Regions from separate parts of the Homo sapiens genome. Here region 2 is linked to region 1. Evidence: fine-mapped expression QTL. A gene starts in region 1. The other region holds a variant in brackets. All regions are shown on one strand. Distances are between the middles of the regions. Region 1 holds the start of TNFRSF18 (TNF receptor superfamily member 18). Region 2 overlaps B3GALT6 (beta-1,3-galactosyltransferase 6).

The links.
Region 2: its variant is fine-mapped to the expression of TNFRSF18 in whole blood (TOPMed, PIP above 0.99).

Annotation. Positions count from the first base shown.
Region 1 is chr1:1,205,129-1,208,021 of GRCh38, forward strand. It overlaps TNFRSF18 (TNF receptor superfamily member 18), which reads right to left and starts at 1,464. Exons shown (of 5, transcript NM_004195.3): 1 at 1,257-1,464; 2 at 242-364. The coding sequence starts at 1,443. RefSeq lists a silencer at 47-247.
Region 2 is chr1:1,234,845-1,237,737 of GRCh38, forward strand. B3GALT6 (beta-1,3-galactosyltransferase 6) reads left to right here. Exons shown (of 1, transcript NM_080605.4): 1 at 1-197. Among named protein-coding and RNA genes, the nearest start is that of B3GALT6, 4.1 kb to the left of the region's middle. The variant A/G (reference allele first, on the strand shown) is at 1,459.

The DNA.
Region 1 (2,893 bases):
GCAGGGTTCTCACAGCCCTCGTGCTGGATGGAGAAGCCCAGGCTGAGAAAGCAGGGACAGGACACCCCCAGAGCTTCATGGCCTGTGGTGCCTGAGCATGGCCTGGCCTGCCCGGCCTCACAGGACTCCGGACCCCACACACCACATGTCCTCGCCGGACACCTGTGCCCACGAGCTCTGCCTCGGGCCCTAGTGGAACCCCTGGCCTGTGTGGACTCCCAGAGGCACCTCCAGGACTTACCCTGGGACTGTACCCCCTGGCCTGGGGGACAAGGGTGGTGCCGGCAGGTCGTGCAGCAAGGGTCTCCGCAGTGGAATTCAGGCTGGACACACATGCAGTCCCACTCGGAACAGCACTCCTCGCCTGGGCAGGAGACAGGCCAGCCCCCCAGCAGCTGGGCTGAGGCCCCCTCCTCCCCAGGCCTCCCCTCGGCCCTCCAGGGGAGTGAGGTTGTCCGTTCTCCACCCACAGTTGGCTCCAGGGAGCAGAGGGCTCCTGGCTGGGAGTCTGGACCCTGGGTTTATCCAGCTGTCTCTTTCTCCTGGGGCCATGTGGCCTGGCTACTCCCCCTTTGCGCCCCACAGCTGCCCCTGCCCAGGTGCTAACTCCATATGCAACCAGGAGCTGCCCCTGCAGGACCCAGGGGTGGCCCCCAACAGTGCACAGTCCCCTGGAGGCCCGTCGACACCTCAGAGGCCGCCTGCCTGGTGTCTGGGCGCTGCTGTCCCCACCACCAGCCACACTGGGCCTCCGGACAGAGCCTCCCTTCCCAACCCACAGGCCCTGGAGGAAGAAGCTCTGGGGTGACTTCCCTGCCAGCTTCCTCTCCAGACCAGCCGTGTCAGCTGAACCCTCATCCCCAGGTGCAGGTCAGAGGCAGGCAGCAGGCCAGACGGTGGTGCAGGGGGGCCCTCAACTGGGCAGGAGGGGGCTGGGCGATGGCCAAGGGCTCACGACCCGCCCAGCAGGACCTGGAACAGCCGTCCTCCACCTCCAGACCCCAGACCCCTCTTGAGGGCGCTCCCACCTGGCTCACCCCTGCTCCCGGCCGGGGCCACTGGCTGGAGCTGGCACACCTCCGCCTCCCTCTGGGATCCTGCCTCCCTCCGGAAGGCTCCCGCTGCTGGCGGCTCTGTGCCCACCCTCCTTAGACCTCAGCAACGCCGGTCTGAGCACGGGAAGGGGGGCGCCCACCCATCCCGGCTTCCGCGGGACGCCTTGGCCGGTCCGCGTTAAGTAAACGCGGTTTACTTACCCGGGTAATCGCGGCAGCAGCGCGTCGTGTGAACCCGGCAGCAGCGCGCGTCCGTTCCCGTCCCAAGCAGGAGGCGCCCAGGGCCGCACCCGGGACCCCCGGTGGGGCGCTGACCCAGGCTGAGCGCGCACAGCAGCGCCAGGCCGCACAGGGCCCGAAACGCGCCCATCGCCCCGTGCTGTGCCATGCTCGGGTTTCAAGAGCCCACAGCCAGTTGGACACGCCCCGTCCCCGTCCTCACCCGCCCTGCCCGGAGGTGGCTGGGACCGTTCATGACCTGAGAATCCCGACCCAGGTGAAGTGCGTGTGAGGAGGGGGTGTAGACACTGCGGACACAGCCCGGTCCCCCGCAGGTCGCCGGCAGGGGCGGGGAAACCAGGCTGGCGGGGATCAGAAAGGTTTTCTATGCAAAGTCTGCGGCCACATTGGTGTCCCCAGTGCAGGGGGCGGCGTTTATAGCACCTTGTCCCATGGGGGCCCCTTGGAGGGCGGGGGTCAGCCAATCACTCCTCCATCCCACTGCCTCCGGGTGGTATCTGCGAGTCCCCGAGAGGTCTCCACAAATTCTGGCCACCCCCAGAGAGCCTCAACCATGGAGCCCCGTGCTGGGGAACCCCACAGAATGGGGACAGGGACCCCTCGGCTCAGCACACCCCACCTGGCTGGCTTCAGGTGTGAAACTCACCATGGGCTGCAGGCCTGTGGGCTCCCCTCCCCCTTGCTTGCAGCTCTCCAGGACCCCCCTCAGGCCAACCTGGGAAGTTCCCCGGGGCTTGGGAGGGGCACCAGGAGGAGCTGGTGGGGAGACGAGAGGGTGCTGGCGCCTCCTCGGGACAGTGTCAGCCGCCCCCGCGGGCACCCAGGGCCCGGTCTCTCAGAGCCACCTTCATCCGTCACACCAGACAGATCCAGGTCCCGGAGGGAGTTGAGGAGGAGCCCCTCGCAGAGCTCTTGGGAGACTGTCCTATGTCTTTCTGAGCCTCAGTTTCCCCTGTGGGCACCGAGGGGTTCTGGGACCCTGCCTCCACCAGGAAGCCTCCCTGGATTGCCCAGCCCTGCTTCTGCGCCGTCCAGCACAGGTGGAGACCCCCATGAATGCTGGGGGTGGGGGCTCTCGGGAACGTGAGCGTGGATGTGGTTCAACACCCTTTTGAGACCTGCAGCCACCGCCTCACCCCGTAAGGCGGTTCCTCCTTTTCCAAGGTAAATGACAGGAATTAGCTGTTTGTGACACCCCGGAGTTCTCAAATCCAAGATGTAGGAGCCTGCCTTGGAGAGGCAGCCCTCAGACACTGCAGAGAAGGAAGGGGTCTCTGCAGCTCCAGGCCGCCCCGACGCTCGGAAGGAAAGGGGTGGGGCCAGCTGGGCCTGGGGGCCTTTGAGAGGCCTGGAGATCTTCAGCCCCGAGGCTGGGAGGGGGTCTGGGCCCCTGGATAGAAAGAGGCGCCATCAGTGGCTCACGCCCGTAATCCCAGCATTTTGGGAGGCCGAGGTGGGCCTCGGATCACCTGAGGTCAGGGGTTCGAGACCAGCCTGACCCACATGGAGAAAGCCCGTCTCTACTAAAAATACAAAAAAAATTAGCCAGGCGTGGTGGCGCACGCCTGTAATCCCAGCTACTCGGGAGGCTGAGGCAG
Region 2 (2,893 bases), 30 kb after region 1:
CTGGACTCCCACACCTCTGGCCTGCGTCGCCCAGTTCTTTGTGGCTCTGAAGAATTGGCCGCTGTGGAAAAGAGCAAATGTCCGAGACCCCCAACAGGAAGAGTCTAAAAATCCAGTTTGCAACCACTTCTGACCTACAAAAAAATGGAAATTTAGTGTTTTTCAGCCTAAGACATTAAATTTCATATCAGAACAAAGCCTGCCCCAGGCTGACCCTCCCCAGCCGTACCGTGGTGAACGGGTTCAGAGGATACGTGGGCTGAAGGCTGGGCCTCGGGAGGGCTGGGGGCTTCCAGAGCCGGGGCAGCTGCAGCTCTCTCTGGTCTCACCTGGAACTTGCCCTGTAGATCCTCCCTGCCCTGCGGCTCCAATCGACCGTGCACGGGCCGTGGCATCCGTCCCCCAGGCGTCCTTCCCTGGTCTTAGCTTGTACAGCTCCCCACCCACCCAGGTACTCGGTTCCCGGAGACCAGGGCCAAACCAGGAGGCCCTCGGGAGATGGGGGGTCACCGAATTCATTTCCATGTGGGAACTTGGGATACAAAACAGCCAACTCTTCCTCAGCCACACGGATGTTTCTCCTCTAGTGGCCCCGAGAACCTACCATGGAGGGGACAGTGTCAGGGCTGGACGGGCACGGCGCAGCCACACGCACACAGCCCCCAGGAGGCACAGGGCCGGCAGGGAATGCAGGTCAAGCCAAGAGGATGGGCTCTGGTCCCTTCAGGATCCCCCAGGAGGAGAGCACCCCCTTCTGCCCTCTTCCTGGGGACTATGGTCCTGCCTCTCTGCCCCCTGAGGCTGGCATGCAGGCACCTGACGTTGGCTCCAGCTCTCTGGGCCAGCCCTGGGTACCCGCCGGGCCTGTGGCCTGGTTGGTCACCCCCAAGATGCAAAGTGCTACCTGCATCCGGAGGCACCCCCGCCCCTGAGGCCTCCAGGTTCCCACCTGCCCACCTGTGTCTGGCTGGGATCCTGGCTGTCAAGGCTCCTGTTACGGGACTGAACTGTGCCCCCTAAAAGATATTCCAAGCCCTAACCCAGCAGCTACAAACTGACCTTGTCTGGAAGTCGGGTCTCTGCAGGTGGAATTGCGTTAAGGCAAGGTCCTGAGGTGGCCTTACTCCCACGGAACTGGTGTCCTTACCAGAAAAGACCTGGGAAAAAGCCACTGTGTGGCTAGAGACTGACACCCAGGCGATGCCTCTGCAGGCCAAGGATTGAGGACCCTCCACCCCCACCCCACCAGGCAAGGAAGGGCTCTACCCAGAGTCAGGAGCGTGGCCTCCAGGGCTGCGAGGGAAGACGCCCCGTCCAGCAGCCCCAGGATGCCAGCCCAGTTCCCTGTGCCCGGCGCTCTTCGGTGCAGACGCAGGCAGGGGCTCCTGCAACCTTGTGGCATCACAGACGCCCAGCACTGACTGGGCCCAGATCTCCTCCCCGCAGGGCTCAGCACAC[A/G]CCCTGTTCCCGGCAGGCCTCCATCAGTCCAGCCTGCAGCAGGGCTGCCCCCGCGGCCTGGGTCACCCCAGACTCTTCCACCCTCTCCCTGGCTGACTGTCCCAGCTCAGAGTCCTCAGGTCTAAGGGGGTCACGGCCCTCCTGTGGCCCCACCGGCCCCAGGCTCCCCAGCTGTGGCACTGTGAGACCAGCTGACGTTGCAGGAATGGAAGCCCCAGCGGCCCAGACGGCTTGGGGAGTCCTCGGGAGCAGGTGGCCAGAGACAGGTGCGTGCCAGGCCCTCCGCACCCAGAGCGGGGCCGGGAGGAGAGAGGAGGCCCCTTGTTCGCGCAAGGCCCTGCTTCCTGGGCCCACAGCAGCCTGTCAGAAGTTTCCAGCTCCTTGGACTGGCTGTGTGGGGCCTGCTCCCTGGTTTCAGGGGCCTGGGAAGGGCTTGGCGCTTTTTCCTGGTTTCCTACTCTGAGGTGAGCTGGCGTCTCCCTCTCCCACTGTGGGCTGAGGGGAAAGACCTCTGTGTCCATCCCACAGGCCTGGCCAATCTCTGGGGTCCTCAAAGAGGAGGCTTTTGAGGGGGCACAGCCCAAACCCCTGGGCCTCCCCTTGAGGTCTCCTCCCAGCCCCCACCCAGAGGACCTTCCCACAGCCTTGGGAGCTGAAACCCAGGCCACCCCATCAAGTTGGCCTCTGTGGGTGTACACACTCCTTTCCCTCAGGGCCAGGGTGGGTCCCCACCCCCAGCACTCACAGCCCCTCCTTCTCTGGCCTCCCTGCCCTCCGCACCCTCCCTGCTAGATGCTGGTGCCGCTAGCCCTGCCCTGATGGCCACACTGCACCACGCTGGCCAGGTCAGAACCACCCGAGGAGAAGAACCAAGATCTGGCCCCACCCTGTCCTCCTCGGAAGGTCTCTCTGGGGCCCACCCCCTCCTCCCTCCCCAAGGATCTGAGCCTCCCTCACCGAGGTTCCCAGTGGAGGTAGACAGTGGATGAGTGATCCCAGGAGAGCTGGCTGCAGCCAAGGGGCTGAAGGGAGGTGGAGGCGGGAGGGGCAGGAAGGAGGATCTGGAAGGCCCCAGGCGCTCCCCACCCATCCAGCCTCGGCCTCTGTCCTGGTCGCGTTGCCCAGCGAGGCCTCTCCTTGGGCTGGGGCTCGGGTACTCTGCCCTGGTCGGGGCCACAGATGCCGCAAAGTCCCCTCAACTCAGCTAGCCAGGGTGCAAGACCGCGCCCACAGCTGAGAAGCCAGGGGTTACGAGTGTGGCCCTGCCAGGACCTCCTCAGCTGCATCCTCCAGAGTAAACACAGGTGGCCGCAGATCTTCCAGGGCCGGCCGGGCAGGCAGGACAGGAGCCCAGGAGGGCCGCAGTCCAGCTCCCCTCCCCGCTGACCCAGGGCCGGACCCAGCCCGGTGACTGGAGCAGAAGGAAACCCAAGCC